Homo sapiens: one gene and its partners. The protein of the gene in region 6 purifies or fractionates together with the protein of the main gene of each other region. This does not show direct contact. Each region holds a gene or a part of one and is shown on either strand. Other genes may lie near its edges. The genes, in order: SEC13, CLIC4, TSPAN3, PAIP1, CALU, TPD52 and ZNF174.

Region 1 (4,916 bases), on a different chromosome or scaffold from region 6:
TTGTTGCACAAGTTCAACGATGTGGTGTGGCATGTGAGCTGGTCCATCACAGCCAACATCCTGGCTGTCTCTGGTGGAGACAATAAGGTACATACCCATTCCCCGTGGCATGGTGGACACAGCCTGTTGGTCTTCACCCCGCCCACTAGAGAGGGCACTTGACATTCCCATCTGACTGCAGGCTGGGCAGGAGCCTTAGCCAGGACTGCGTTTTGAGTGTGCCTCTTAGTTACATCATTAATGTCACAGCCCCTGAGGTAGTATTAACACGTCCCCCTTTCACAGATGAGGAAAGAAGCTGACAGAGGCGATTTGACTTGCATGGGGGTCCCAAAACTATGAGGTGGCAGAGCCAGTCAGGCCCATCACCCTACTAAGCATTTGGTCACCTCATGGTGATGTTCAGTTAGCTGTGCCAAAAAGGCAAGTGTATAAGAACCCATAAACAGAAGAAGATTGGGGATATTTTTTGTCCATAACACTGAAAAGGCTTTTTAAAAACCTTTAGAGTTTATGAATACTTGTTATGCTGGTAAGAGGCAGGTACACAGTGGGTGCACTGGAAGAGTTTGCATTTTGCAGCTGAAAGAGTTCTGGAGACCAGCTGCTCAGGGACCCAAATGTACTTCACACAACTGGACTGTGCAGTTAAAAGTGGCCAAGGTCATTTTATGTGACGTGTATTTTACAATTAGAAGGAAAAAAGCTACCCGCAGAAAGGAAGCAGTAACAAGCCATAGCCATCTGCCCAGCTGAATTCCCCTATAAGACAGAGGATCTCTAACGCCGCAGGGTCAGTTCCACGTGGAGTGGCTGTGCTGCGTTTTCAGGCACATCTGCTCTGCGCCTGAAGTGCGAGTTGGTCTGGATCCTGCCAGCCCTTGCTGCTTCTCTCCCTTGCCTATGTTGGTCTTTTACTGTTTCCCAGTGGCCACTTTGGCTCCATGTCTTACCTTTCATTTGTGTGGCTCACGGCACAACCAACACAGGCAAGGCAGAGAAGCAGCTGGTCTCCAGAACTCTTTTCAGCTGCAAAATTGAAACTCTGTACCCATTAAATAACTCCCTTCCCCATTGCCCCTCCCCAGCCCTGGCAGCCACCCTTCTCCTTTCTGTCTATGTGAATGTGACTGCTCTAGCGACCTATCTAAGTGGAATCATACAGTATTTGTCCTTTTGCGACTATGTCACTAGCAGTATGCCCTTAAGGTTCCTCCATGCTGTACGTAGCATGTGTCAGAATTCCTTCCTTTGTAAAGCTAAGTAGTGTTGCATTGTATAGACAGCCCACACCCTGTTTCTACACTTATTCCTCCACCAAAGGGCACCTGGGCTGCTGCCACCTCTTAGCTATTGCGAATAGTGTGGCTGTGAACATGGGTGTGCAGATCTTGAGAGCCTCTGCAGGCGGCTTTTCTGGCCGAGGGTCCCTTTCATCTACAGTGGTCCCAGAAAGATCTAGCAGGCCCCCTCTCAAAGCCATATTTCTAGTGAGTGCCAGAGTCAGGACCAGAACCCAGGTTGATGGCACTCAGGGCAGACCAAGGGACCCAGATTGCCTCAAGCAGGCCCCCAGTGACTTTTTTACAAGGCTGTAAGCAAGTGCCTGGCTGTGCACGCAGTGTTGTGGGGCCCGTCACTGTGCATTTAGGCTTCTTGCTCTTCTTTACAAGCCTGTTTCCTTTCGCTGTCTCCATAGCACCCTTACCTAAAGGACTTAGTATGTTTTCAATCCCAGAGCATTCTGCAGTGTGTTGAGTGAATAGTTTGTCCCTAAAGCAAGAGTTCTTAAAATCAAAATCGTTATTTTCATTTTTAATCAAACTAATATATGTACATAGGTTTAGATTGTTTTTGTTTTTTGTTTTGTTTTTTGAGATCGAGTCTCGCTCTGTCGTCCAGGCTGGAGTGCAGTGGCGCAGTCTCGGCTCACTGCAACCTCCGCCTCCTGGGTTCAAGCGATTCTCCTGCCTCAGCCTCCCCAGTAGCTGGGAGATTACAGGTGGCTGCTAGTTTTTTTGTGTGTATTTTTAGTAGAGATGAGATGGGGTTTCACCAGTTCAGGCTGGTCGCGAACTCCTGGCCTCAGGTGATCCACCCATCTCAGCCTCCCAAAGTGCTGAGATTACAGGCGTGAGCCACCATGCCCGACCTAGACTGATTTTTTTTAATGCAGCCTCCTAATTTTCTCTCCAGGGGCAAACCTTTTCAGCTCTTAGCTATTTCTTATACAGTTTACTTCAGTGTAGAAACAACATATTGAACTGTTACCTTCCTCTACCACAGTAGTTTTCAAACTGCAGTGTTGTTAAACCTGTTAAAACAGATTGCCAGCCCCACCCCCAGAGCTTCCTAATCAGTTGTTCCAGGCCCCAAGAATCTGCAGTTGTAGCAAGCTCCCAGGTGACCGATGCTCTGCTCTGGTCTGGGGACCACACTTTGCGAACCCTGCTCCCCGCCACCCCATATCCTCTCGCTGTAGCTCTGTCACAGTTTGCTGAAAACAGTATCCTGTGTTGACATCATCATCCACAGCTGCTGTTATTGTTACTCCTTTTTTTCTGTGAGTTTTTATTCCTGGACTCTCATTTTGGTGAGATTTCAGTGGAGGAGGGACATGCTCTGTTCACCCACAAGCCTCTGGGCAGTGGTTCTTGATGAGGATGAGGCTCATATTTAGGGGACAGCAGAGGGAAGGGCACAGACCCGTGATAATCTGCTTGTGCACTGACTCGCAGGTGACCCTGTGGAAGGAGTCAGTTGATGGGCAGTGGGTGTGCATCAGTGATGTCAACAAGGGCCAGGGCTCCGTATCAGCATCAGTGACAGAGGGCCAGCAGAACGAGCAGTGACAAGACAGGTGGGGCCTGGCTCCCCACCCGCCAGCTCCAGGACTGCCCCTTCCTGGGCCAACTAACCAGACAACTGGGAAGAGCCCCCAACTCCAACAGGATTATTTTCCCAGGAGGAGTTACAGATGCAGCCACAGATTGATCATCTGCCTTAACGTGATCGGAGATGCTTTGTAATCTACTGTCCAGCTGAAAGCACTCATGTTACGAGGAAGAAACTACAAGTGATGTTCAAATCTATTTTGGGTCATTTTTATGTACCTTTGGGTTCAGGCATTATTTGGGGGGTTTTGTTTCCAAAGGAACTAAATAAAGTCATATTGCTTATAATTCCTGCTGCGTTATCCTAACCACCCCACCCCACCAGCTCAGTTTGACTCTTGTCGGTCCACGCACTAGAACAAACTATTCACAAAGGCCACGGCTGTGATGGCCTGGCTTAACCCCACGCACAAAGGTGGCTTGTCACTGCATGAGCATCTCTGATTCAGTTTATACTGAAAGCACCATACAGAGCACTGGACTCAGCCTTTGGTGACAAGGACTGTAGCCCTGGGTCTGCTACTTACCCTCTCGGTACACATCCTGTTCTGCAGAATGGGACTAATACAGTCTGCCCTACAGGATGGCTGCAAGATTCAAACACGCTAGTGCATCTGGTGACCTACAAAATGCCACGCAGGTGCAACGTGGTATTAACCAAACACCAATAGTTAAGATGCTGGCCCAGAAAGTGGGCACGATTCATTTAGTTTATTGACCCTGTCAGGAAAAGGAGGGCCCCATGATGGGAGACCTAACTGACCCTGAACCAGGTATCACCTTTCAGCGGAGGCCCTGTGACCCTGACAATCGCCATAGCCATCAGTGAGCCTGCGGTGAGCCAGACCCTACACTGGATCTTTCACACATTCGCTAATTTAAGCAACACGAGAACCCCGTGTGGGTGTACCCAGTTCACTGATGAGGAAGCGCTCAGAAGGTAGAAGCCCTGCCCAGGACTGTGCAAACGTAAAGCCAGCGTCAGGGCCTGGCCCATCTCAACAGTTACTCCCCACTGTAGAATCAGGGTGGGAGCTGGGGGGCTCTCCTCAGCTGTAATACAAGGATGTTTCTCACACCAAACCTTTGTATGAATAGATTCAGATAAAAGGTCAGCCCACTTGCCTCAGGCCCCCTAGTCTGCCTACTTCTTGTCCTTCCCTCCTTTTTCAGCAGCAAAATCCCCTTTAAAAAAAAAAAAAAATCTTTGATCATACTATGTAACATAGAAGAAAGTGAAACTGCTTTGGTTAAAGGTGAGGACAGAGAGGCCATGGCCTGGCCCAGTCAGCCTCCAGTCAGTCCACAAAGCCCAAGCCTTCTGAGACCAACATGAAAACAGCTGCTTCCTTCCTTCCCTTACTCAGAAAAGCAAAGCCCAGGAAGGCACCTTCACGTGCACTACTGAGTGTCGAGTTCTACAGTGAATCCTTGAACCATATCCACGTCTGCCTCCCTGATACGCTCTGTGCTCCTCAAGCCTGGGCCTGGGCTTCCTATGGTGCCAGCTGCTGTCGCCAAGAAAATACCGAGAAGGAACTAGTCCCGTGTCACTCTGGGTTGGTGGTAGGTTAATGGGTCCCTGACTGTGTGCTCTATTTTAACTCCCACCACCAAGGATTGGTTAAGATAATTATGAAGTTGGCACCATAATAGTTGTTTATACTTAGAGTGGCAACACATTAACCATTCCTGGGTAAGAGGAGACCCCAAAATTTATTACCACAAAATAGCCTAGTCAAATAGAAATACTATCTGTAAAACTTGCCGGGCAGTTGTCAAGCCCAAATGAGATAAAAGTAAGGGAAATTTAAAAGGCATAGAGCTCTGGTTAGGGCCAGATGGCGCTAGCAGCCATATGTTTTTAATCCTTTTGCAAAAACAAAGCAACTGGGACAGCAAAAGAAACCCACAGACCCTAGAACATGGAGCAGGCCAAAGCCTTCATAGACACAATACCTCTGAGAGATCAGCAGGGTGAAGAAAAGGGAGTTTTTATGGTGCTATAAGCCAGAGACCCCA
Region 2 (4,734 bases), on a different chromosome or scaffold from region 6:
CCTCCCAAGTGAGTATCAAGGAAAATACGTATGAAAATATTGTCACTTCTTTGAAGCTTGTGTTATTTGTCAGTAGAGATCTTTCTCGCAGCATTAATTTGGAATGACTAGGACTCTCTTCTATGTTTCTTATAATTAATGCTACACAGATATAAGAATTGGCTTCCAGCTAGGCCAATCAGCCATACTAAGAAAGGTGGGGATTTGTCTAAGCTGTAGAATATGTGGTAGAAACAGATTTGGGATGTGTCTGATAGGTCAGGAAAGACTGGTTATTTGTGGACTGTAGGTCTCAAACTGAGAGAGAAGTTTAAAGAGGAGAAGGGGTGGGGAAAGACACATTCCAACTGAACCCAGTAAGAATGTCTTAGCAGGAGTGTGGCACAGGACTGCAATGAGATTTGATTTCAGTTCATTTTAAAGGTAACTTTCTAAAGCTATAATCCAAGGACATTGACTTTTCCGACTGTGTCCCTAGGATTCAGAGTTTTTATTTACTTACTTCTTTGAGGTGTTCCAGATCTCTAGGTCCTGGATGTACTGTAATGATAGTTACCTAAATTGCAGATATGCAGCTTTGCATCATACTGTAATATTGGCATAGATTCAAAGCATTATTTGTTTCTTTTAGGCTTTTCCAGTTTCATTATCCTGAAAATTGACATGTTTTGTTTCTACTGACCAAAACCTTTCTTACTGGTTAACTTGACTGTTGCCCTCCATGTCCAGATATATTTTCCAGGAATGGGATTATTGAGATGGAGGGTTCTAAAATAATTATAGGCATACCCTGAAGGGTATGGTTCCAGACCATTGCGAGTTAGGTTCCAGACCACAGTGATAAAATGAATATTGGAATAAAATGAGTCACGTGAAATTTTTCGTTTCCCAGTGCATGTAAAAGTTATATTTACAGTAGTATACTGTAGTGTTTTAAGTGTGCAATAATAGCATTATGTCTGAAAATATTGCATGTACCTTAATTTAAAAATACTTCATTGCTAGGCTGGGTGTGGTGGCTCATGCCTGTAATCCCAGCACTTTGGGAGGCTGAGGCGGATGGATCACCTGAGGTTGGGAGTTCGAGACCAGTCTGACCAACATGAAGAAACCCCGTCTCTACTAAAAAATACAAAAAAAATTAGCTGGGCGTGGTGGCAGGCACCTGTAATCCCAGCTACTCGGGAGGCTGAGGCAGGAGAATTGCTTGAACCAGGGAGGCAGAGGTTGTAGTGAGCCAAGATCGTGCCACTGCACTCCAGCCTGGGTGACAAAAGCAAAACTCCGTCTCAAAAAAAAATCATTGCTAAAAAATGCTAATGGTTATCTGAGCCTTCAGCGAGTCAATCTTTTTGCCGATGGAGGGTCTTGCCTTGATGTAGCTGGCTACTGACCGATCAGAATGGTGATTGCTGGTTGGGGTGGCTGTGGCAATTTCTTGAAGTAAGATAACAATGAATTTTTCTACATTGATGGACTCTTCCTTTCATGAAAGATTTCTCTGTAACATGCAATAGTGTTTGATAGCATTTAAAAATTTTAAAGTAAATATTCTTTGCCTGAGGCTAATCTCAAGAGGTCCTGAGAACATGCACCCCTGTTTGATAGTGTTTTTACCCACAGTAGAACCTTTTTCAAAATTAGAATCCATCTTCTGAAACCCTCCTGCTGTTTTAACAACTAAGTCGATGTAATATTCTAAATTCCTTGTTGTCATTTCAACAATGTTCTTAGCATCTTCACTAGGTATACATTCTATCTCAAGAAACCATTTTCTTTGCTCATCATAAGAAGCAACTCCTCATCCATTCAAATTTTATTATGAAGGTAGAACAATTTGATTACATTTTCAGGCTCCAGTTCTAATTCTAGTTCTCTTGCTATTTTCAACACATATGTAGTTCCTCCCTCCACTGATGTCTTGAACCTGTGAATGTCGTCCATGAGGGTTAGAATCCACTTCCTCCAAACTCCTGTTAATGTTGCTATTTTGACCTCCTCCCATGAATCATGAATGTTCGTGTTTTTTTTTTTTTTTTTTTTTTGGACGGAGTTTTCGTTCTTATCGCCCAGGCTGGAGTGCAGTGATGCGATCTCGGCTCACTGCAACCTCCACCTCCCAGGTTCAAGCAATTCTCCTGCTTCAGCCTCCTGAGTAGCTGGGATTACAGGTGCCTGCCGCCATGACCAGCTAATTTTTTTGTATTTTTTAGTAGAGTTGGGGTTTTGCCATTTTGGCCAGGCTGGTCTTGAACTCCTGACCTCAGATGATCCGCCCGTCTCGGCCTCCCAAAGTGCTGGGATTACAGGTGTGGTATGAGCCACCAGACCTGGCTGAATGTTCTTAATTGCATCTAGAAAGGTAAATCTTTTCCAGGTCACTTTGCTTTGCTCAGATCCATCAGAGGAATCACTTTCTATGGCCTTATGAAATGTGTTTATTAAATAATAAGACTTGAAAGTCAAAATTTATGGACTGCAGAATGGATGTTGTGTTAGCAGGCATGAAAACAACCATGATCTCCCTGTATATCTCTATCAGAGTTCTGGGGGGACTAGTGCATTGTCAATGAGCAGTAATATTTAGAAAGGAATCTTTTTTTCCTGGGCAGTGGGTCTCAACAGTGGGCTTAAAATATTTAGTAAACCATACTGTGAACAGATGGATGTGCCATTATCCAGGCTTTATTGTTCCATTTATAGAGCATCTGTAGAGTAGCTTCAGTATAATTCTTAAGGGTTCTTCAAATTTTGGAATGGAAGATGAGCATGGGTTTCAACCTAATGTCAACAGCTGGATTAGACTCTTAACAGAGTCAGCCTGTCCTTTGAAGATTTGAAACCAGACGTTGACTTTTTCTCTGTAGCTATGAAAATCATAGATGACATCTTTCAATAGAAGGTTTTGTCTGCATTAAAAATCTGTTTAGTGTAGCCACCTTCATCAATGATCTATCTAGAAGATCAATTCTAGATAGATCATTGTTGAAGGTAGATCAGATTTTCTAGATAGATCATCAGATGAAGGTGATGAAGGAAGATCTAGATAGATCAGCTAGATCTTCTAGATAGATCAGCTAGATCTTCTAGATAGATCAGCTAGATCTTCTAGATAACTGGCTGCATGCAGCTTCTGCATAAGCATTTGCTGCTTCATGTTTTACTTTTATGTTACAAAGATGGCCTCTTTCCTTAAACCTCACGAACCAACCTCTGCTACCTTCAAACTTTCTTCTGTAGATTTGTCACCTCTCTCTGCCTTGATAGAACTGAAGTGAGTTAGGGCCTTGATCTGGATTAGGTTTTGGCTTAAGGGAATGCTGTGGCTGGTTTGATTATCTGGACCACTCAAACTTTCTCCCTATTGGCAATAAAGCTGTTTTTCTCTATCATTTGTGTGTTCACTGGAATAGCACTATTAAATTTCCTTCAAGAACTTTTCTTCTGTATATGCTGTTTGGCTGTTTGGTGGAAGAAGTCTAGCTTTCAGCCTATCTCAGCTTTTGGCCTGTCTCAGCTTTCGACATGCTTTCCTCACTAAGCAGAATCATTTCTAGCTTTTGATTTAAAGTGAGAGATATGTGACTCTTCCCTTCACCTGAACACTGAGAGGTCATTGTAGGGTCATCAACTGTGGGCTAATTTCAACATTATTTTGTCTCAGGGAGCAGGAAGGCCTGAGGAGAGGGAAAGACAGGGGAACAGCAATCACTGGAGCAGTCAGAACACATATGATATTAATCAGTTAAGTGTGCTGTCTTATATGGGTGTGGTTTGTGGTGCCCCCAAAACAATTACAAGAGTAACATCAGAGATCACTAATCACAGATCATCATAACAGATACAATAATAATGAAAAGTTTTGAAATATTGCGAAAAATACCACAGTGTGACAGAGACATGAAGTGAGCACATGCTGCTGGGAAAAATGGCGCCATCTTGCTTGACTCAGGGTGCCATAAACCTTCAATTTGTAAAAAACGTAATATCTGCAAAGCACAATGAAGCAAAGCTCAATAAAGCAAAGCACAATAAGACAAGTTATACCTGAAGTTACTCAATTTGGTTTTTTTTTGTTTGTTTTGTTTTTTTTGAGACAGAGGCTCACTCTGTCACCCAGGCTGGAGTGCAGTGGCACAATCTTGGCTCACTACAACCTCTGCCTCCTGGGTTCAAGTGATTCTTGTGCTTCAGCCTCCCAAGTAGCTGGGATTACAGGCACCTGCCACCATGCCTGGCTAATTTTTGTATTTTTAGTGGAGATGGGGTTCCACCATGTTGGCCAGGCTTGTCTCGAAATCCTGACCTCAAGGTATCCGCCCACCTCGGCCTCTCAAAGTGCTGGGATTACAGGTGTGAGCCACTGTACCTGGCCCAGTTACTCAGTATTCATCCATTCATTTATTTATTGATTTATTCATTCTGCAAAGCATTAATGGACTACAAAGCACTGTGAATATATTAGTAAATAAAACACAGTTCTTGCCCTCAACAAGTACAGTCATGTATGGGTGGAGAGGTGTTTATGGTGGTGGGACGGGGAAGTGAATGGAATCAGGAAAGGCTTTAGAGAAGAGAGAACACTTGAACTGTCTTAATTTAAAAAAAAAAAAAGAAAAAAGATGTTCAGCAGTTGAACAAAGGAGTGACAGGTATTCCAGAGCAGAAGAGTCATTTTAAATCAATAGTATAAACATATATGTTATACACATACTATACAGAAATAGTATGTAA
Region 3 (3,586 bases), on a different chromosome or scaffold from region 6:
TAGATGAGGGACATAGCTAAAGTGATTATTTTTATCAGTCTTCTATATACATGTTGCATATTTCATGACCACAAGTACCATACAGTTCCAAAACTTTTTTGCTGCATGCTAGTACATGTGGCTTTATTACTGAACATAAAATCATTAAGAATGCACAGTTCAGAATTCTATTTGGGAAAAGAGACCTTCCTCATATTTCATTATTTTTAGCTAAATGAATGTGTTTGCATAAATAATCAAAATATGAAATAAATCCCTGCTGATCATCAGATTACTGCTATGCAGAGCTACAGAGTAAATGCTTAGAAGGGCAAAGACCATGGCAAATAAAGAGGTAGGCTTTTTAATGAATCATTTCAGGGCTGTCTGAATATCAGCAAAGTAAACAATCATCCTTTTGCCATTTTAAAAGGCCTTTCCCATTAAATACACTAGCTTCTGTTCAAATATACAAAGAGCAAGCAATCCAAGCAACTTACATTTAAACTAGCAATTACATTGGTTTTATTTAACAAATAAAAGTTATCTACATTTTTCTTTTTTAAAAAAAATTTTTTTTTTGGTAGAAATGGAGTCTTATTGCCCAGGCTGGTCTCAAACTCCTAACATCATGGGATCCTACTCCTCGGTCTCCCAAAGTGCTGGGATTACAGGTGTAACCCATCACACCTGGCTCTTTTAGCTCTTGAAATAGGTTTCAGGCTTAAGAAAGCATAAGCTGAGGCTGGGCGCGATGGCTCACGTCTATAATCCCAGTACTTTGGGAGGCCGAGGCAGGTGGATCACCTGAGGTCAGGAGTTCAAGACCAACCTGGCCAACATGGTAAAAACCTGTCTCTACTAAAAATACAAAAATTAGCTGGGCATGGTAGCGGGAACCTGTAATCCCAGCTACTTGGGAAGCTGAGGCAGAAGAATCACTGGAACCTGGGAGGCAGAGGTTGCAGTGAGCTGAGATCACACCATTGCACTCTAGCCTGGGCAACAAAAGCAAAACTCTGTCGTAAAAAAAAAAAAAAGAAAAGAAAAGAAAAGAAAGCATAAGCTGGGTGCGGTGGCTCACGCCTGTAAATCCCAACACTTTAGGAGGCCAAGACAGAGGATTGCTTGAGGCCAGGAGTTTGAGACCAGCCTGGGCAACATAATGAGACCCCATTTCTGGAAAAAAAAAAAAAAAATTAAAAATTAGTCTGGTGTGGTGGCCCGTGCTTGTAGTCCCAGCTACTGGAGAGGCTGAAGCAGGAGGATCGCTTGAGCCCAGGAGTTCAAAGTTACAGTGAGCTATTATCATGTCATTGCACTCAAGCCTGGGTGACAGAGTGAGACCTTGTCTCTATTTTTAAAAGTTGTTGTGTTTAGTGCAAGAGACCAGTGCTGTAGTACCAGTTCTTGATTTACGTATATGAATATATAAAACCTGTGAGGACAGAAAAACAAGAACTAGAGGGAGAACTAGCATACAAAAAAACTGAATAAAGCTTTGTATTCCCAAACTGAAAGAAAGAAGTACAATTTTTAAAAATTTTGTGACATTCTAATAAAATATCTTCCAAGAATACACTAAGACAACAGTTCGTTTATGTTTTGAACAGGTCACTCACTAATCAAGAAAGACAGTAAGACGAGGAGTTCCCTCAACACGTGGTCCCTCCCCATCCAGATTTCTGGTTTCTTTAGACCATTCCGGGTCTAGGTGTATAGACAAGAAATGGAAAACATGGGAAACTGGAGGCCAGTACCTCAGTCACTTCCACATTACCTACATACACAAAGATTCACTGTGATGGGGATTAAAACCATTCAGGGCTGACAACAGAGAACCAACTCACTCCGATAGAACTCCTTGGCAAGCTGTGCTTACCTGAATAGCTGCAAATGCCAGTGCGGCCCAGATCACATGCATCATGATTTCTTGTAGCTTCTTCACTACTAGAGCCTCACACCCCTGTAACAAACACAGTCATCCTCGTTAGAAGTGTTCTTTAAAAGTTAAAGCTGCAGATTCACAGGCCACTACCCACTTACAGAAAGGAAAATGACAGAAACTGAAAGAGTGGAAAAAAGATTCCATGATTGGTATAATTTACAGACATGTAATTAAAACAAAGACATGCATTTTATAATAATTTACAGTAAAACAATATATGACATTAAAGACAAGCAAGGTGGCAGAAAAGAAGTCCCAGATGGTGATAAGACATGGTGAAAAACAGGTTAATCAAGCTAGACTCAAGTCGTGGCCAAGAGACTCACCTCAGCATAGAGGTCGGAAGGGTGGGCCAGGCTGCCATTACAATTGCTGGCAGTCTCTCTGCAGCAGCTAAGAGGGACACTCTGGTTTTTGGTTTCTTTGAACCAATCTGTATTTTCCCAGTCTGAGTAGTTGTGAATTCCACAACAATGCAGCTAAAGGAGAAGAGAATAAGTATTATTTCTCACAAAAACCAAATACCTGAAGTTCCATGTACTACAGAGCTTTAAAATAAGCTACTCTAGACCAGTGATGTCCGATACAACTTTCTATAATGGAAAGTCTGCATGATCCAATATAGCAGCCACTAGCCACATGAAGCTCTACTGAGCACTTAAATTGTGGCTAGTGTGACTAGAAAACTGCATTTTAAATTTTAATGTAAACAGCCAGACATGGCTAGTGGCTCCAGAATCTCCATATGAAAAGTACATTGCCAGGCCGGGTGCAGTGGCTCACGCCTGTAATCCCAGCACTTTGGGAGGCCGAGATGGGCGAGTCACCTGAGGTCAAGAGTTCAAGACCAGCCTGACCAACATGGTGAAACCCCGTCTCTACTAAAAATACAAAGGCTGAGGCAGGAGAATCACTTGAACCCGGGAGGTGGAGGTTGCAGTGAGCCAAGATCGCGCCACTGCACTCCAGCCTGGGCAACAAGAGTGAAATTTCGCCATCTCAAAAAAAAAAAAAAAAAAAAAAAAAAAAAAAAAAAAAAAAAAAGAAAAGAAAAGTACATTGCCTATAAGCGGTAGTTTCTAACTAAGGAAAATCTTCATGTCTTACATGTTAAATATCTGGTTCCATGTTAAATATTATTTCCAATGACAAAGTATTTAAAATATTTGGTCTTAAAAATTTTGAGATTTGCTTTAAGATAATGAAGCAAAAAGTAAGTAGGGGCAATAAGACTGACGAAAAGTTGATATTACTGAGGCAAGGTCGGGGTGCAAACATCTATTACACTATTCTTTCTACCTTTGTGTGTATCAGACTGTCCATAACAACTTTTTTTTGACAGTTTTTCTGTTGCCTTTTCTTATCTTGTTTTCTAAAGGTATATATAGACCTCCCACCTCCCCTGGAGTCAATCTGGACTCCCACCTTTCCTGTGACACATACCTCTCTCTTGCGTCATCACCCCTTTGGCTAAGTACTTTGGGAGAGTACAGACTGGGGTCAGGGAAGGGGAAATCAGATGATAAAAAAAAGTTCAAGATGTTTCTCATCTGGCTAGGTGATGAAATAAACTTTTCAAGGGTGAAGGTTGGGGAAAAATATTGGTCACATCAGGATAGCCATGTATGTGAAGAAACATGGCTAATTTACACAGAAATA
Region 4 (4,734 bases), on a different chromosome or scaffold from region 6:
CAAAAAAAACAATAGCAGAACTTTAATCATGGGTTTTATGTCAACGACTGTTATATTCCCTGTATGACTAAGATAGGCTATTAGATTTTAATGAACATGTCACTTTTTTTGAAATATACAGCAAGCAACAAGTATAGAAGCTTTGAATAAAAAAAAAAAACACAAACATGCATTTCATCAGGAAATAAATCAGTTAAGGATTTAAACAGGTAATTTATAGGAAATAATAAACAAATGGCTAATAAACATGAAGAAATGCTTAAAATCATCTGACAAAACAAAAACCAAGATTGATTATATCCATCACTATAAGGATGTAGGAAGAGATGTACTCATTCTGCTGATGGGGCTATACTCTGGTTCAGCATTTGGAAGGCAAATTAGCCATTACTTGTCGTAAAATACATATGCTCGTCCACCCACCAAATCCGTGTTTAAGAATTTAACCTACAAAAGTATCTGCACATATATATGACAAGAGGAAAGATTACAAGCAATGCTGCCATGGCTAAACTGAAGATAATCCAAATATTCATTAGTAAACATTGATAGATGTTACGGAATGGATAAACAATGCATATGCATATGACAGAATACTAGGAAGTTATTCAATAAAAGAGGTAAATCTCTGTGCCATGGAAAAATCTAAGATGTTTCATTAGGTGGCAAAAACAAAAACAAAAAGCCAGAACAGAGTAAGATCTTATTTAATAAGAGCACATATACAGAGATAAGAAGGGAAGAAGACAGAATTTGCAAATGGAAATGGCGTAAAGGACTTCCATTTTTCACTTCTGAACTTGCTTCATATATTAAACAATAAGTATATCTCGCTTTTCCAAAATATTCGAGAAAAAAGTAAAATGTCAATATTTACCTTAAAGTGATAAATCTTGAATTCATCTGTATACTATATAGACTAACCTTCCTCTAAATCATAAGTAAATACGTAAATTAGTTAAATTAAAAAAAAAAACCTACCTTTAACAATTTTACTGCACAAATTAAATTGTCATCCATAGGATTAGAAAACAGGGCATTCAGCAATTCTCGAAGACCAACCTGAAGAATATCTGCTCTTGTAACCTGTCCATTTGTTCCCTTGATCTTTCGGGACCAAAAAAAAGAACAAAAGGAATGATGCCAAAATATAATACAGATACATAAATGAACTAACAAGGTGTTGGCAAAATAAGCATTTTAGCTAAATCACAAAAGTCACAGGAACACACTCTGATATCTTCACAGAATTTGTTAGAATTACTTTATATGTAACTAAGACCTCTAATAAAACTGGTAAGCTATGGGTAAAATTTAATACCAGAGTCAGCATAATTTAAGCCCACTTTGATGTTACTACTTCATAAAGCTTTCTTTAGTTTGTTCAACTACCACTTTTTTTTGAACACACAGCATTTTATTCTGCTTTTAAAATATTTTAAAATATGGTATTTTGCATCAGAGTGGTATATGTATCTTATATCACTGTGTAGAAGAATTTTAGGTGCAGGAACTAAGCCTTATCTTTACATCCCCCATTGACCTAGCATCATTATCTCCATATAGAAAATGCTCAACAGTATTTATTTTAGATTGCTGTCCATATTTTGGCTTAAACAAAAATTAGACTGAAAAAGAACATGGCATAAGATTTTTCAAAAAACTAAGTCTACCTGTGGTAAAAAGGCATAGTAAGTTAGGCTCTGGACTGGACATAGACCTTTTAGATACAATGACTGAGATGCACATTTGATAGATTCACATTGTCTTATGATGTTTCTGATATTATGGCGTTTACGATCTTAAGTTCTCAAATCAGGGTGTAAGAAGGTATAAGCTTATATCTGATATTCACTAATTTAAAAAATCAAGCAGAGGCTGGGCATGGTGGCTCATGCCTGTAATCCCAGCACTCTGGGAGGCTGAGGCGGGTAGCACCTGAGGTCAGGAGTTTGAGACCAGCGTGGCCAACATGGTGAAACCCCATCTCTGCTAAAAATATAAACATTAGCCAGGCATAGTGGTACGTGCCTGTAATCCCAGCTGCTCAGAAGGCTGAAGCAGGAGAATCGCTTGAACCCGGGAGGCGGAGGTTGTAGTGAGCCGAGATCACGTCACTGCACTCCAGCCTGGGTGACAGAGCGAGACTGTCCCCACCCAAAAAAAAAAAAAAAAAAAAAAAATCAAGCAAATCTATTACACAGTAATAATGCCGTGCTGAATCCAGCACTTCTATTGCCTACTAACAAGCATATACTTAAGTATACCACCCAAATTTATAAATACGTTTAGCTGTAGACTTTGTACAAATGCATTTTTATGTGGAAGATTAATATATAAAATAGGACAAAAAAGAACTATTCTTAGGGGTTGGGGTATTGGGGAGATGTTGGTCAAAGGACACAGAATTTCATTTAGGGGGAATAAGTTCAAGAGATCTCTTGTACACCATGATGACTATAGTTAACAATATATTGTATACATGAAAACTGCTAAAAATTTTAAGTGTTCTTAACACAAAAAAGTATGTCAAGTAATGCATATGTTAAATAGCTTGATTTAGCCATTCTACGATGTATGCATATATCAAAGTGTTGTGTACCATAAAGATATAATTTTTGTCAATTAAAAAAATATTTTTAAAAAACTATTTGGGTGAATTAGAGTGAAAAGCCTAGAGAGACTCTAGTCTCTCTTTTCACTCAGAGTTCTGCAGAGTAAACTGCTTTGAGCCACCATCTGAAAGTCAACATACTAAATGTATTAATATATAAGATGTAAGAACTCAAAAAGGTATCACTGTTGATATCTCAAGAACTTAAATTTGCATGTAAACCACAGCTTCCTAAAAGTACGCAGATTTTTACCTCAGTAATTATTTCCTAACATTCTGTCCATGAGTAAATGTTATGGACAGACGGTCCAGTAAACCACAGACACTAGCAGGTGCCGAAACATGTTTTCTTTCCTCTCTCTTTCATTTCACTCTTAATGTTGTAAAAGTACAATGTGAACACAAATTCCTCATTGAGATCAACTTATGTTCTCAGGCCTTGTTAGTACTTAACAAAAGAAAAACTTCTCACCTCCAGGTTAAGATAAAGTTCTCCCAGAAAGAGTACAAATGCATGAAATCGTTTTCGAGTAACTTCATCCCCTTTTGCAGCTTGATCTTTAACTTCATATTCAGTCCGACATCTAATTAAAGACATATCTTTTATAATCTCACATTGCTTTGCTTTTTAAATAGTCAAACAAAATAACCATTTGTCAGTTTGGTTGTCCACAGCAAGAGGCAAGGACAATGTCCCAATGCTCTTTCTACAATAAAGAAACTGTTCCTGACTATTGAAGAGGCTAGAATATACACCATCTTTTCATACTAAGTCTCCCAGTTTGAAAAAACTGATAGTTTTATTTTCAACGATTTTTATCAAATTTAATATGTTTAAGCAACATAGGTGTAATCTGATTCACAGCATACTGGCAGCCCAAAGAGGGGAGAGAGAGCCTCACCTTGTCTTATAGGTTTTTTACTAAGAAAGCACTGATTTTACCCAAATTGTCTCTGTAATTTTTTTTTTAATACTACAACTTTGAAAAGGATCTTTAAATACACACACACACACACACACACACACACACACACAACCTCCAACTGAAAATAAAATGAATTGTTTTTAAGTCCATTATTCTTGTAATTTCCATTATACGTATCAGAGAAGTACTAATGTGAGGAAAAAATTCCCCCATTAAAACCACAATATAGAAAGCACCGGACTTGTTTTCTATTTCCAATGAGACTGACAGCTTCAAATAACTGATTTTTCCTTGCTCTCTTTGCCCCTGACTTGACCCATTTGCTTCACACAGAGGAGAAAAAGAAGAAATCCTCTTCTTGGAGCTTATTGTCAGTCATAGTTCCTACAAGGTAACTAAACTAGGCACAATAATCCTGTCACTGCCTTCATAAGTGAACTACAGTGTCAGATATTGTTACTAACATAGATTTTTTAAATGGACTGTAAAAGTTTATCATTTTGTTATTAAGTATTTGTAATCTTTATTGATAAGGTGAGAAAACTCTGGGAAAGTAACTTGCTTCACAAAACTGGTTTTGACAGTTTTCCTTTTCAAGACAAAGGGAAAAGCTATGGGTACTGAATGGTTTCCACGCAGCCAGTTTAGGTTGACTTTGTAAACAATTTTTAACAAAGAAAAAATAAATTACCTCTTGTTCAGTAATTGACTCTGGGTCAGTTTGCCAACCACGAAACCCCAGCACAGCTTACTGTGCTTACGTGGCCAATTCCAATGTTTACGAGGTATATTAACTGAGCAACATCTTCTGTTTAAGTCAAATGTGGTAAGATATTTGTTATCATCTTGTACATATTAAATTCCTCATCAGAAAAAAGTTGGGATATTTATAGATAGTACATTCTGGTTAATAATGGAAGAGATCAGTTAATTAATGCCAAATCAGTTATTTAAAAACACCTGTTGGCTGCTTTTCTGTTACAACTTTGTCGGTAAGAGTTGATGAAATAACTTTTTTTTTCATAAAATGCTATGACAGACTGTACGTTAGGATATGATTATGTACATGCAAACAAATACCTACATAATTGACTAGGTGAAAAGTCAAATTTTTAAGCTAAAGATTTTCAATTATAAAAGCAATGTATGTTTATTTTGGAAAGGTTAAAACAGAAAAAGTATAAAGAACAAAGT
Region 5 (4,734 bases), on a different chromosome or scaffold from region 6:
CCCATTCTGGCTCATCAGTATTCCCATCATGGCTGTACATGTCACCTGGGTACACAGACATACATACAAAAGAAGGGTTTGTCTTTTCCCCAAAACTGCCTCATGCTAATCTGGCCTAACCCTTTTTCCTCATCCATTTGTTTGGAACCCAACAGCAGCTACAAGGGTATTTTAGGCCAGACAGACCTTAGAAAGCAAGGTATTTTCCTGAGGCTTAATCACTTATCTTGCAACAAGAATATTTCCAGCTGCTGATTTTAAGTCACATGAGAGCAAAGAGTTCTTATACCTTAATAAATGCAGAAATAAGAGGAGAGAGCTACCATCAAGAAAGACTTAGACTCGTTCCCTACATTTCATTTCACCCTAAGGTAGCTAATTAAACGGGACCACTTGTTTTAGAAAGGTGTAGCCAATTACTACAAAGAGTCCATTATACCAGTGGCCTTCAGTTGGGACAAGCACGCCCCTGGGGAAACAGGAACACTGTCAAGGAGTACACTGAGAAAGGTCAGTCAAGAGAGAATCAAATTCCAGATACTCAGTTCCACATATAGATTTTTCCAAAAATTGATCTTCATAAGAATGTACCTCTGGCCATCAAGGCTTTTTTCCCATCTCCCCCCTTTCACAACTGCCCTTGTCCCACTTTATAAAAGAAAGGCATATTTTCAACCATTTTGAAACTAGAGTGTAAAAAGCTCCAAGATAATGAAAAAGAAACAATTAGAAATACTAGTGTCTGGATGGGCGTGGTGGCTCACACCTGTAATTCCAGCACTTTGGGAGGCCTAGGCAGGCAGATCACCTGAGGTCGGAGTTTGAGACCAGATCACCTGAGGTCAGGAATTTGAGACCAGCCTGGCCAAAATGGCAAAACCCCATCTCTACTAAAAATACAAAAATTAGCTGAGCATGGTGGTGCGTGCCTGTAATCCCAGCTACTCGAGAGGCTGAGGCAAAAGAATCACTTGAACCCAGGAGGCAGAGGTTGCAGTGAGCCGAGATCATATCACTGCACTCTAGCCTGGGCGACAGAGCAAGACTCCGTCTCAAAAAAAAAAAAAAAAAAAAAGAAAAAGAAATACTAGTGTCAGTCTTGAGAATGCAAATGCCTGAAAAAAAATGAATAAATTCGTTTGCATGTCAAAAGGTTTTAAATTCTTTGCTTTAAAAAAAAAAACCTTGAAAAATGGCCTAATTGAGTTTTAGCTAAGGGATCATTAAACATAATTTTTGGGCTGGGTGCAGTGGCTCATGCCTGTAATCCCAGCACTTTGGGAGGCTGAGGCGGGTGGATCACTTGAGGTCAGGAGTTTGAGACCAGCATGGCCAACATGGTGAAACCCCGTCTCTACTAAAAATAAAAAATAAAATTAGCCGGGCGTGCTGGCCCACACCTGTAATCTCCAGCTACTGGGGAGGCTGAGGCAGGAGAATCGCTTGAACCCCAGAGGCAGAGGTTGCAATGAGCCGAGACCGTGCCTGTGTACTACAGCCTGGGTGAGAGAGAGAGACTCCACCTTGAAACAAACAAAACCCATAATTTTTGATGATAGATTACATGATTTCTGGCATGTAACTCAAAAGGAGTTCCAAGAACTAAGCAATATTGCTATGACAAATCTTCCATCAACTTATTTACTAATGTAAACAAGGTCTGTTAGTACTTCCTCTAAAAAATAAAAATTAGGAATTGGTGCTGAATCCCATTTCACTCTAGGGATAAGTAATTGTCATCCATGGATATGAAACTATTTGAATAAAAATGTGTCAAAGAAATGCATTTAAAAATATATAAACATAAAACGTCTGTAATAAATGTTATTTTGTTCAATTGTGTATTAATAATTGTAATAGTAACTTAACACAGAAGACTCTAAAAACACTTAAGAGCCATATCACAGAACACCATTTTCCATATTTCAATTTACATACACAATGTTCTTGCAAATAAGAATGTCAAAGTGACTAAGGCTTCAAGATAAAATATGTCAGAATATAATTCTGTTGAGGAAGTAAACTGCAAATGAATCTAACAAATAGAAGGCTGACTTGTGAGTTTGAGATCAGCCTGGACAACATGGCAAAATCCCTACAAGAAATACAAAAATTAGCCAGGCATGGCAGCATGCACCTACAGTCCCAGCTACTCGGGAGGCTGAGGCAGGAGGATGGCTTGAGCCTAGCAGATCGAGGCTGCAATGAACCATGATCATGCCACTGCACTCCAGCCTAGGTGACAGAGTGAGACCCTGTCTCAAAAAGAAAAAGAAAAAAAAGAAACAGGAGGTCGGGTGGCTGATGTCTGTAATCCCAGCACTTTGGGAGGCCAAGGCAGGTAGAGCTCTTGAGCCCAGGATTTCCAGACCAGCCTGGGCAATGTAGGGAGACCCATGTCTATAAGAATAATAATAAAAAAAATCAGCTGGGTGTGGTGGTGCTCTTCTGTGGTCCCAGCTGAGGTGAGAGGATCACTTGATCTCCCCACCTTGGAGATCGAGGCTGCTGTGATTGTGCCACTGCACACCAACATGGGCAACAGAATGAGACTCTTGTCTTTTTAAAAAAGAAGAAGAAGAAGAAACAGGATGCGTGTAAAATGTCCAAGTTGGTTAACAGTTTATTCATTTATTTTTTTAAGACAATATCATGTGGTGACTGATAAGTAGTATAAATATCCCCAAATCCCTATAAATTTAAACAAAAAAAAGGGCAATTAAGTGATGGTCACATTGTTGCTAACCAAACGCCATAACTAAAAAAAAAAAAGTACCAAAGAAACATTTCCTTTTTAACTATTATGAAATGTAAAAAATTACGGATATTTTCTTATATACCCACAATGCCACTTTCATATTTTACAAAATCAATTCCTTGGTATCATCTAATACCCAGACTGAATTTAAATTTCTTGATTATCTTTTTAAAGTTGTCGTGTCCAAATTATTCATATGAAAGACGGCAGGTAAGAAGTTGCTATGGTATCTTGTATTTAAATTTTATAGATTTCTTTCCGAATTACTTTCAAAATGTCAATGCTTATCACCAACAGAGATTATTCTTTTTTCTTCTGAGACAGGGTCTTGCTCTGTTGCCCAGGCTGGAGTGCAGTGGTACAATAACGGTGCACTGCAACCTCAAACCCTCAGGCTCAAGTGATCCTCCTGAGTTGCTGGGACTACAGGCACACGCCACCATGCCTGGCTAATTTTTTCTTTTTTTTTGTATTTTTTGTAGAGACAGGGTTGCGCCATGTTGTCCAGGTTGTTCTCAAACTCCTGGGCTCAAGTGATTCACCTGCCTCAGCCTCCCAAAGTTCTGGGATTACAGGAATGAGCTACGGCATCCGGCCCAACAGAGACTATTCTTTACAACTGTTTAAATTTCTTAATTAAATATTTCAGATGCCAACTTTAAAACACATAAGGGAATGCTGTTGGTCAAATTCTTTCAGGAGTTATTTAAGTGAACAAGTCTGAAAATGCTTGAGTTATACGACATCTAAGTTAAGTGTACCTGCATTGCATGTAAGGTATGGGAAAACACCTAAAGAGAAATCTAAATAGTTCCTGCAAGTTCTAAGCAAAGGTAATTATTTAGTCAGTGCTGCCATTTTCCTGACCTTGAGGGTTAAGGGTAGAAGTACTCCTCTGTCTTAAACTCACAAGAGAAATTCCTCACAGCAGGACTTGCCAATTTTTTCCCATGCTACAGCACATTCAGAAAATGTAGTTTGTACGGTCCACTGGATCAGGTTCCTGCCCTAGCTGTCCTGAAAGCCAAGAAGACTTACTCACAGGATACAGATTGGAAAGTTCTGAATTAGGAAATAGACACATGCTTAAAAGATATGGTTTTAAAGGAAGCTAGAATACACAATACACTACAACGTAAGCGCATTTTAAAGCTAGGTGACCATGATAAACTATTTGAATTTCTATTTTTATTTATTTTACTTTATTTTTTTGAGACAGAGTCTTGCTCTGTCGCCCAGGCTGGAGTGCAGTGGCGCGATCTCGGCTCACTGCAACCTCCGCCTCCTGGGTTCAAGCGATTCTCCTGCCTCAGCCTCCTGAGTAGCTGGGATTACACAGGCACATGCCACCACACCTGGCTAATTTTTATATTTTTAGTAGAGACGGGGTTTCACCAGGTTGGTCAGGCTGGTGTCTAACTCCTGACCTTGTGATCCGCCCACCTCAGCCTCCCAAAGTGTTGGGATTACAGGCATGAGCCACCATGCTCGGCCGAATTTCTATTTTTAAAAGACTCAGTCTATTTGATGATTTGAAGGTATTATTAATTTTCTTGGGTTGACATTATCTTTAAAAAAATGTTTTTAGAAACACATATATATTTTAGACATATATACCTCAATGTTTACAGATGAAATGACATAATGATTGGGATTTACTTCAAAGTAAGAAGGAAGCAAGGAAGTGGATGTGGCTGAGAAAAAACTGGCTGTAAGTTGATTGTTGTTGAGGTTAGGCATAGGTACATGGGGATTCATTATACTATTCTAATTTGGGGGCAGGTGCAGTGGCTCACACTTGTAATCCCAGCACTTTGGGAGGCTAAGGTGGTCAGATCACTTGAGGCCAGGAGTTCAAGATCACCCTGGCCAACATGGTGAAACCCCGCCTCTATTAAAAATACAAAAATTAGCCAGGTGTGGTGGTGCATGCCTGTAATCCCAACTACTCAGGAGGCTGAGGCACAAGAATCGCC
Region 6 (4,734 bases):
TGTATGTTTTCCCACTGCCAACTTAGATGGGTAGAAAATGGACCAAAAGACTGGGGACTCAAGTACTGTCATGTTAAATGCAGTTGGCCTCACTTCTGATAGTTAAATTGTAAAACAACTTCTGTGCTCACCAGCTCTGCAGATGGCTCTCAATACAGAAGACAGAGCAGTTCGGTTTCTGCTGCTAGAAGCTTGCTCCTCCTTGTGCCGGGAAACAAAACTGCATTATGATAATGCTATATCATAGCATGTGTGGTCAAAAAGACAAAAAGCCTAAGGGATTGACCTCTGCCAAGAGCATATATCTGAGACTACGACCTGAGAATCTTTTGATACCTACACAACAAGGTTAAAAAAATACATTAATAATAATAATAAAGACTGGCTCCAGACCTGAGTTTGAATTCCCACTCCACATTTTGAGAGGTTTGTGACATGAAAACTTAATTTGTCTGAGCCTGTTTCCTTATCCAGGGTTATCTTGCCACCCATTCTTACTGGGTTATTCTGAGTACTAAAGGACAAAATGTACATATTTGTGGCAAGTCAATACATAACACTTATGGGATTTGAATTTTATTTCTCCAACTGGCTAGCTTTCTTTCTATTCCTTAGAATAAGTGGTCTGGAAAAATTGAAGTTACAAAAAAAGGCAGGCACACTTGAAAATCAGAAAAAAAGGGTGCCGTGTCGTCCAAAGAAAAGCTGCTGAAGCATCCTTATCCTCTTTTTCTTCCCCTCTCCAGACAAAAGGCACAACAGTGTCCTTTACACTCCCAAGGAAAGTGTATGATCAAGGAAACATACGCAGATGTTGCTGTCACGTCTTGCCACCCTTTGGCAATGTTCTGTTTTAGTTCCTGTAGAGAATTGATTCCAAGTTTCCGCTTGATCTCTGCTAGATGCTTCTCTTTTGCTGCTAACACTTGAGACAGAGTCTGGATTTCTTCTTCTACCTATGAGGAAGGGGTTTGGGGTAAGAATATAGCAAAAGTCATTCAGTAAGTTAAGATTATTACCACAGAACTACATCCAAAATTCCAGTCATTAAACATTTTTTTGAATCATTTATCTTTCTCTCTAAAAACAATGTATAATGTTGTTGAGTAAACTGGTTACTTGCTGATCTCTCCTGTAGAGTTCTCTTTCCTCCTCCATGGGAGCTCTTTATAATCCCATCTTAAGCTGTTTTTGGCCTTCTCCTCTCTCCCTATACTTCCTTACTCAGCTATCTCATGTAGGTTTAGGACTCAAATTTCTACACAGATAATACTTAATAAAGCACTCTAACATCCACTCTCCCGACCTGTGGGTCTGCCTTCCCAGCCTAGACATTTCTATCTGAATGCCTACAAAACTTGTATTTGTATACTAAATCAAAATAATCTCCATCCCCTACCAAAACACACACAACCAAGCCAAACCCAAATCCAATCTCCTTGCATATTTGATATGAGTATATATACTGGATACATATACTCAGTCCCTGTGTCTGGCAAAGTCATGGCCATAATAAATCAAACCGCCTCCTCAGGAGATCCCTGCTCTCAAGGGTTTCATGTGAACCCCTTGATGCTGACTGCCCAGACTTGACTAGGTGGTTAGAGGTGGGCCCTGACCCATGGACAGCCACCCATCAAGAGCCAGTGGATGAGCCCAGTGTGAAAAGAGGTGCTCAACTATTCGTCTCTCTCACTCAGGAATCTAGTTTGAGAAGTGAGATGACATTGCAAGTAGAAGCTGAAAAAACTTGAAGAAGCCTTGAGGTATAGGTAGGCTACAGTGAGATTATGAGAGGTATGGAAAGCTTAAATATGCTTGAGGAATCTAAAACTGTAAGCAGAAGCTATGAAGAAAAGGAAAAAATGGACAGAGTAGAACAAAAGGCTAATCCAGGAAAACAGGGAAAATGGTAGACTCTCTATTTCAGAAACAGGGAAAAGGGTGGACTGCCTATTTCAGAGAGAAATAGACACCATGTGGAAGAGACTTTAGGTCCCAGGAAATTGAAAATCTAGGTCCCTAAAGTATATCCATTAACATTCAAGACCCTCAGAGAAATGCGTCTCCTGGCTTGTTGCAAAGCCATATTTTCAGCCCCAACCTGCACGGTATTTCTATGATTTCAAAGACAACATGCCCTTTAAAAATAACATAGAGTATTGCTCAGTCAAATGTTTTCACAGATGTTTAAGTCTTTAGAGAACACAAAACAAAGAAAATTAGTGCAACGGAGAAAAGGATAAATCAAATGTGATGCAGCTGCCAAGAAAAAAAAAAAAAGAAGAAAAAGAACCTACAACACCACTCTCAGATAAGATTAACTGGAACAGAGGTCCCTCAGAACAAATAAATAATCCCCTGTGCTTGTCAGAGTCACAAGTACTGGACCCAGTTTTGTAAGTCACATTTTAAGATGTACATTGACGAAGTGGAATACGAGAAGAAAAGGACAAAAAAAGAGGAAAGAATAAGGTTCAAAATTAAGTAAATTAAATGATTTGCCCAAAGTCATCAAACAAATAATGTAGGAACCAGAATTCCTATCTAGGTTTTCTGAATGCACGTCTCAGTTTACTGGCTGAATTCTCATGTACACTCTCTTAAGCTTCCCACTTCCTCTGTCTCTACTTCAGGCTCCAAAGCTTCAGACACTTCTAAGAATAGACTTAAATGGTAAGTTTCCCACCCCTTAGCACTTCTCTGAGGTACTCACTTCCTCTAATGAAAGCTGCAAAGACAAACCACTCTAAATCTTTCTGAACAATGCACAACACAGTATATTCCCCACCTTTGTTGGTTAGCTTGTGCTGCTAACACACCTAGCCCAGCACATCATGGCTGCGATTCCTTAATTCAATATATACATGTAAAACAGAGTGACTTTAAAAGCATAAAGAGCATGATTAAGAATCTCTGATGTGTCTATCACTATATACAAAGATCAACTCAAAATGGACTAAGGACCCAAAACCATAAAACTACTAGAAGAAAACATAGGAGAAACACTTCAGGGCATTGGTCTAGACAAAGATTTTATGGCTAAGACCTCAGAAACACAGGCAACAAAAACAAAAATAGACAAATGGGACTAAATTCAAGGAAATCATCAACAGAGTGAAGAGATAACCTGTAGAATGGGAGAGAACATTTGCAAACTATTCATCTGACAAGGGACTAATATCCAAAATATACAAGGAACTCAATTCAACAACAAAACAAACAAGCAATCCCATTTAAAAAGTGGGCAAAGGATCTAAATAGACATTTCTCAGAAGAGACATATAAATGGCCAACAAATATATTAAAAATGCTCAACATCACTAATCATCAGGGAAATGCAAATCAAAATCAAAATGAGGTATCACCTCACACCTGTTATTATGCCTGTTATCAAAAAACCAAAAAATAACAGATGCTGGCAAGGATCCAGAGAAGATGAAACTCTTATACACTGTTGCTGGGAATATAAATTAGTACAGCCACTATGAAAAACAGTATGGAGGTTTCTCAGAAAAACTTAAAATAGAAATACCACATAATCCAGCAATCCCACTACTGGGTTACTTATCCAAAGGAAAGGAAATCAGTGTATCAAAGGGTACCTACACCCCCACGTTTATTGCAGCACTATTTACAATACCCAAGTGTCCATCAACAGGTGAATGGATAAAGAAAATGTGGTATACACAATGGAATACAATTCTGCCATAAAAAAGAATGAAATCCTGTAATTTGCAGCAACATGGATGAGCCTAGAGAACAATACGTTAAGCAGAATAAATCAGGCACAGAAAGATAAATACTGCATGTTCTTACTCACATGTGGACGCCAAGAAAAAACTCTGAACCCATCTAAGTAGAGAGTAAAATTGTGGGTGTTAGAGGTTGGGAAAGGGAGGATGCCTACAGGTTGTGCTTCAAACGACACTGTCATGAAAGTAAAAGACAACCAACAGAATGGGGAAAATATTGGCAAATTACATACCTAATAAGAGTCTAGTATCTAGAACATATAAAGAAACTTACAACTCAATAAAAAGACAATCCAATTAGAAAATGGGCAAAGGACTTAAATAGACATTTCTCCCAAGATATACAAATGACCAATAAGCACATGAAAAGATGCTTAACACCATTCATTAGTAATTTGAGAAATGCAAATCAAAACCACAAGGAGATACCACTTCATACCCATTAGGATGGTTACAATTAAAAAAAACAGAGATTAATAAGTGTTGGCAAGGATGTGGAGAAATTGGAACCCTCAGACACAGCTGGTGAGAATGTAAAATGAAGTTGGGCAGCAAAGCAGTTTGACAGCTCCTCAAAAAGTTAAACATAGAGCTACCATATGACCCAGCAACTCCACTCCTAGGTATATATAACAAAGAGAATTGAAAACACATCCAGGCTGGGTGCAATGGCTCACGGCTGTAATCCCAGCACTTTGGGAGGCCAAGGTGGACAGATCACTTGAGGTCAGGGGTTTGAGACCAGCCTGGCTAACATGGTGAAACCCCATACTACTAAAACACAAAAATTAGCCAGGCATGGTGGTGGTGTGCCTATAATCCCAGCTACTCAGGAGGCTGAGGCAGGAGAATCACTTCAACCTAGGAGGCAGAGGTTGCAGTGAGCTGAGATCATGCTACTACACTCCAGCCTGGGCAACAGAGCAAGACTCTTCTCAAAAAACAAACAAGCAACAATAAAAAGAAAACACACATCCAT
Region 7 (4,059 bases), on a different chromosome or scaffold from region 6:
ACTTCAGCAAGAGTTATGAAATACTCTGAGAGGTTTCTCAAAGGGTGGCCCTCCGCTGGCAACTTGCATTAGACTCATCTGGAGCACTTGTTAAACAAGCAGGCTCTTCACCCTTCCCCCAGAGCTGCTGGGTCAGAATCTCGGGGGGTTGGGCCTGATAATCTGCACAGTTAGCAGGCTCCTGGGGTGACTGTGATTTATATTAAATTTAGGAACCAAGTTCTCCATCCTCCTTCTTCCTTTCTCCCTTTAGGGAAAGGTTTAGGAAATGAAGAACAGGGAAAAGCAAACCCATCAGAATTGGGTATCTAATGAAGAAGGAAGAGAGGTGAAATCTCAACATTGCAAATTTTACTGCTGTAGTCCAATGCCTGAGCTATTTCAACAAATACCCCTCACTTAGTAAACACTAATTGACAACCACCTTCTCTTCAAAAGATGGTAAGTTCAGAGACTGTGATGTTTTCTTTCATTACAAATTTGACAGTATATGAGTTCAGAAACTGGAATCAGGGCTTAGCCATGTATCCTAATTACAGAAGGATTGACAGTCTGGATGGAGATGAGCTGGAACGGCCTATGGGAAATCACAGGATCTGGAGAAGGATCCCTTGTGATGTGGAAAATGTGTGTGTGCACACGTGCATGCACAGGCACATGCACGTTGTTCAATATGGCAGCCACTAGCCACATGTGACTATGTGGCTACTGGGTACTTGAAATGTGACTACTGTGACTAAGGAACTTAATTTTAAATTTTTTTTTAATTTTAATTCATTTAAATTCAAATGTAAATAATCAGCCTATACAATCAGGGTCAATTGCTTTTTGACAAGACAATTCAATGGGAAAAGAATAGTCTTTTTCATAAAGGATTCTAGGACTACTGGATTTCCACATACAAGAGAATGAAGTTGGACCCTGCTATGGTCTGAATGTTTATCCCCCCTGTCCCCTGACACACATATATTGACAGTCCCCAGTGCAGTGGTCTTGGGAGGTGGGGCATCTGGGAGGTGATTAGGTTATGAGGGTGGGGTCCTCATAAATGGGATTAGTGTCCTTATAAAAGAAACCCAAGAGACTACCATGTGGGGACTCATAGCAGGCACCATTTATGAGGAATGGGCCCTCGCCAGACACCAAATCTGCTGGCACCTTGATCTTGAACTTCCCAGTATCCAGGAACTATGAGCAACAAATTTCTGTTGTTTATAAATTACCTAGTCTAAGGCAATTTGTTGTAAGAGCCTGATCAGATTAAGACAGACCCCTGATCAGATTGACAGACCCCTACCTCAAAACCTATATAAAAATTGACTTGTTTATGTATGGGGAAAAAATAAACTTAAAATGGACCAAATAGCTGAAAGTAAGAGCTAAATCTATGTCTCCTTGAAGAAACCATAGCTGTACATATTTGTGCCCTTGGATTAGGCAGTGCTATTTTACATATGACACCAAAGCATAAAGAAAGAAAAAAATAGATAAATTAGACTGCAGCAAAATGAAAAACGTGTGCGTCAAAGGACACTGTCAAGAAAGTGAGACAACCCACAAAATGAGAGAAAAGATTTGCAAATTACACATAAGGGTCTAGTATCTAGAATACATAAAGGACTCTTATAAAAAATAAAGACAAATAACCTAATTTAAAAATGACCAAAGGATCTGAACAGATATTTTTCCACACAAGATATGTAACTGGATAATAAGCACATGAAAAGATGTTCAACACCATTAGTCACTAGGGAAATGTAAATCAAAACCTCAAATCAAAATTTCTCACCGAATAGGATGGGTATAAGACAATAACAAGTGCTAGCAAGAATGTGGAGAAATCGGAATCCTCACACAGTATTGGTGGGGATGTAAAATGGTGTAGCTGCTTTGGAAAACAGTCTGGTAGTTCCTCATAAGTTAAACATGGAATTACCACATGACCTAGCATATGGTAATTCCACTCCTAGGTATATACTCAAGAGAAATGAAAACATGTCTACACAAAAACACACATTTATAGCAGCATTCTTCATAATAACCAAAAAGTAGAAACAACCCAAAAATCTATGAACAGATGAACCAACATGAACAGAAAACCAACATGTAATATATCCGTACAATGCCTATTATTCAGCCACAGAAAAGGAATGAAGCACTGATTGATGCTACAGCATGGATAAAACTTGAAAACATGCTCAGTGAAAGAAGCCACACACAAAAGACCACATATTGTGTGATTCAATTTATTTATTTATTTATTTTTGAGACAGGGTCTTACTTTGTCACATAGGCTAGAGTGCAGTGGCACGATCTCAGTTCACTGCAGCCTCGACCTCCCAGGTTGAAGTGATCCTCCTGCCTCAGCTCCCCCAAGCAGCTGGGATTACAGGTGTGCAGCACCATGCCCCGCTAATTTTTGCATTTTTTGTAGAGACAGGATTTCGCCATGTTGCCCAGGCTGGTCTCGAACTCCTGAGCCTAAGTGATCCGCCTGCCTTGGCCTCCCAAAGTGCTGGGATTACAGGCGTGAGCCACTGTGCCCGGCCTGTGTGATTCCATTTGTATAAAATGTTCAGAATAAGCAATTCTAGAGACAAAAAGTAGACTGTGGTTGCCAGGGGCTAAATGTTTATGTTCCTCCAAATTCATATGAAATTCTAACTCCCAAGGTAATAGTGTTAGGACATGGGGCCTTTGGGAGGTGATTAGGTCATGAGGGTGCTGCCCTCACTGGAATGGGATTAGTGCCTTCATGAAAGAGCCCCACGGGAGCCTGTCTTCCCCTTCTGCCACATGAGGACTGAGAAGTAGGCAGTCTGTGACCTGGAAGAGGGGCCTCACTGGAACCCAACCATGCTGGCACCTTGAACTCAGACTTCCTAGCCTCTAGAACTGTGAGAAATAAACTCCTGTTGTTTATAAACTACCTAGTCTCTAGCATTTTATATTAGCAGCCTGAACAGACTAAAACACGAAGTACCTCATTGGATGTAGCAAATATTAAGAAACTGAGGATTTTTGTCGTCTTGTAACCCTCCTCCCTAACGTGCTCACTGTATCTTGTATTCACATCACCAGGCTTGGCCAAAATGTCACTGTCATTCAGGCTTAGAGATCACAGGACTGTGTAGAACAAGGCCAGCAGTTACACAAGTATCACACCAGAGAAAGGGAAATAGATTTGAGGATCTAAAGTACAAGCAACATCACAGAGGAGGACAAAGATATAAGATATAGGGTGGGTTTTTATTTCTACCAGGCCCCTCTAAACAGAGGAGCATTTTAAGCAATGAAACTCAGCCATAGCTTGCATGGAAGTTCATCTGTGGCCATATTTGGATCTGTCTTTTCTATAAGAAGTTCTGAAACGGACAGAAAAGTAGGTACAACCCTGTCATGCACTGGATTCTTAAATTTTCATTAACAGAAAACGATAAAAACATACTTACTTGTAGTATCACCACCATCCTAATTAGTGAAATTTGTTTAGTGAATAATCATCTACTATTATATATAACATTTAAAAAAACACACACATGTGGTCTATGCCTTTGCAGAACCATGAGATACATTGATGGAGATAAAGGGCTGATGAGAGGGAGAGAAAAGGCAGAGTGTTTACCTGTCCCAGCCAATTTGGGGGTTGGTTCTTGGAGGAGTGGGGATTTCTCCCAATGATGGGGGCTCAGCCGGTCATAAGCTCCTGCCTGGGAAGGCTCTGCTGGAGAGCTCTCCCTGAGATCTCTCCTAGGAGTCTGCGGTTGAAAGTCTGGCAGTTCCTGTTCTCCAAGCTGAGATCCAGTTTTCTCCAAGAGCACCTTTTGCCCCTGCATACAAACGGCCACCTAGGAACAAGCCCCATCCATTAATTCCATCCATCAGGACTGAGGGAAGCTTGATCTCTCACTGTTGTATAATGACCCGTTTACCTTGGGAATTGCTGATAACCATCTAGAGGTCAACTTTCATAGAAACCACTGAAACCCTCAAAGGAAGTAAAGGGGAGAACGTGAAGAATGACAGGAATGAGGATGCTACAAATCAGCCGAGTGGCTT

Evidence for each region.
Region 1: the proteins of TPD52 (region 6) and SEC13 fractionate together in Homo sapiens (co-fractionation; one large-scale study listed by BioGRID). This does not show direct contact.
Region 2: the proteins of TPD52 (region 6) and CLIC4 fractionate together in Homo sapiens (co-fractionation; one large-scale study listed by BioGRID). This does not show direct contact.
Region 3: the proteins of TPD52 (region 6) and TSPAN3 fractionate together in Homo sapiens (co-fractionation; one large-scale study listed by BioGRID). This does not show direct contact.
Region 4: the proteins of TPD52 (region 6) and PAIP1 fractionate together in Homo sapiens (co-fractionation; one large-scale study listed by BioGRID). This does not show direct contact.
Region 5: the proteins of TPD52 (region 6) and CALU fractionate together in Homo sapiens (co-fractionation; one large-scale study listed by BioGRID). This does not show direct contact.
Region 7: the proteins of TPD52 (region 6) and ZNF174 purify together in Homo sapiens (co-immunoprecipitation; one large-scale study listed by IntAct). This does not show direct contact.

The regions. Positions count from the first base shown.
Region 1 is NC_000003.12:10,299,197-10,304,112, reverse strand, and holds the end of SEC13 (protein SEC13 homolog), read left to right. Parts: coding exon 1-87; intron 88-2,738; coding exon 2,739-2,852; 3' UTR 2,853-2,965; coding exon of another isoform or gene 2,966-3,007; 3' UTR 3,008-3,182; downstream 3,183-4,916. UniProt on the Homo sapiens protein: Functions as a component of the nuclear pore complex (NPC) and the COPII coat. At the endoplasmic reticulum, SEC13 is involved in the biogenesis of COPII-coated vesicles.
Region 2 is NC_000001.11:24,814,212-24,818,945, forward strand, and holds part of CLIC4 (chloride intracellular channel protein 4), read left to right. Parts: coding exon 1-8; intron 9-4,734. UniProt on the Homo sapiens protein: In the soluble state, catalyzes glutaredoxin-like thiol disulfide exchange reactions with reduced glutathione as electron donor. Can insert into membranes and form voltage-dependent multi-ion conductive channels.
Region 3 is NC_000015.10:77,050,524-77,054,109, forward strand, and holds part of TSPAN3 (tetraspanin-3), read right to left. Parts: intron 2,407-3,586; coding exon 2,254-2,406; intron 1,946-2,253; coding exon 1,862-1,945; intron 1-1,861. UniProt on the Homo sapiens protein: Regulates the proliferation and migration of oligodendrocytes, a process essential for normal myelination and repair.
Region 4 is NC_000005.10:43,535,838-43,540,571, forward strand, and holds part of PAIP1 (polyadenylate-binding protein-interacting protein 1), read right to left. Parts: intron 3,199-4,734; coding exon 3,087-3,198; intron 1,108-3,086; coding exon 982-1,107; intron 1-981. UniProt on the Homo sapiens protein: Acts as a coactivator in the regulation of translation initiation of poly(A)-containing mRNAs. Its stimulatory activity on translation is mediated via its action on PABPC1. Competes with PAIP2 for binding to PABPC1.
Region 5 is NC_000007.14:128,762,767-128,767,500, reverse strand, and holds part of CALU (calumenin isoform a precursor), read right to left. Parts: intron 46-4,734; coding exon 1-45. UniProt on the Homo sapiens protein: Involved in regulation of vitamin K-dependent carboxylation of multiple N-terminal glutamate residues. Seems to inhibit gamma-carboxylase GGCX. Binds 7 calcium ions with a low affinity.
Region 6 is NC_000008.11:80,052,475-80,057,208, forward strand, and holds part of TPD52 (tumor protein D52), read right to left. Parts: intron 957-4,734; coding exon 808-956; intron 202-807; exon of another isoform or gene 132-201; intron 1-131. Other genes in the region: TPD52-MRPS28 protein, read right to left, coding at 808-956.
Region 7 is NC_000016.10:3,404,215-3,408,273, reverse strand, and holds part of ZNF174 (zinc finger protein 174), read right to left. Parts: intron 3,849-4,059; coding exon 3,626-3,848; coding exon of another isoform or gene 3,501-3,625; exon of another isoform or gene 3,366-3,500; coding exon of another isoform or gene 3,286-3,365; exon of another isoform or gene 2,233-3,285; intron 1-2,232. UniProt on the Homo sapiens protein: Transcriptional repressor.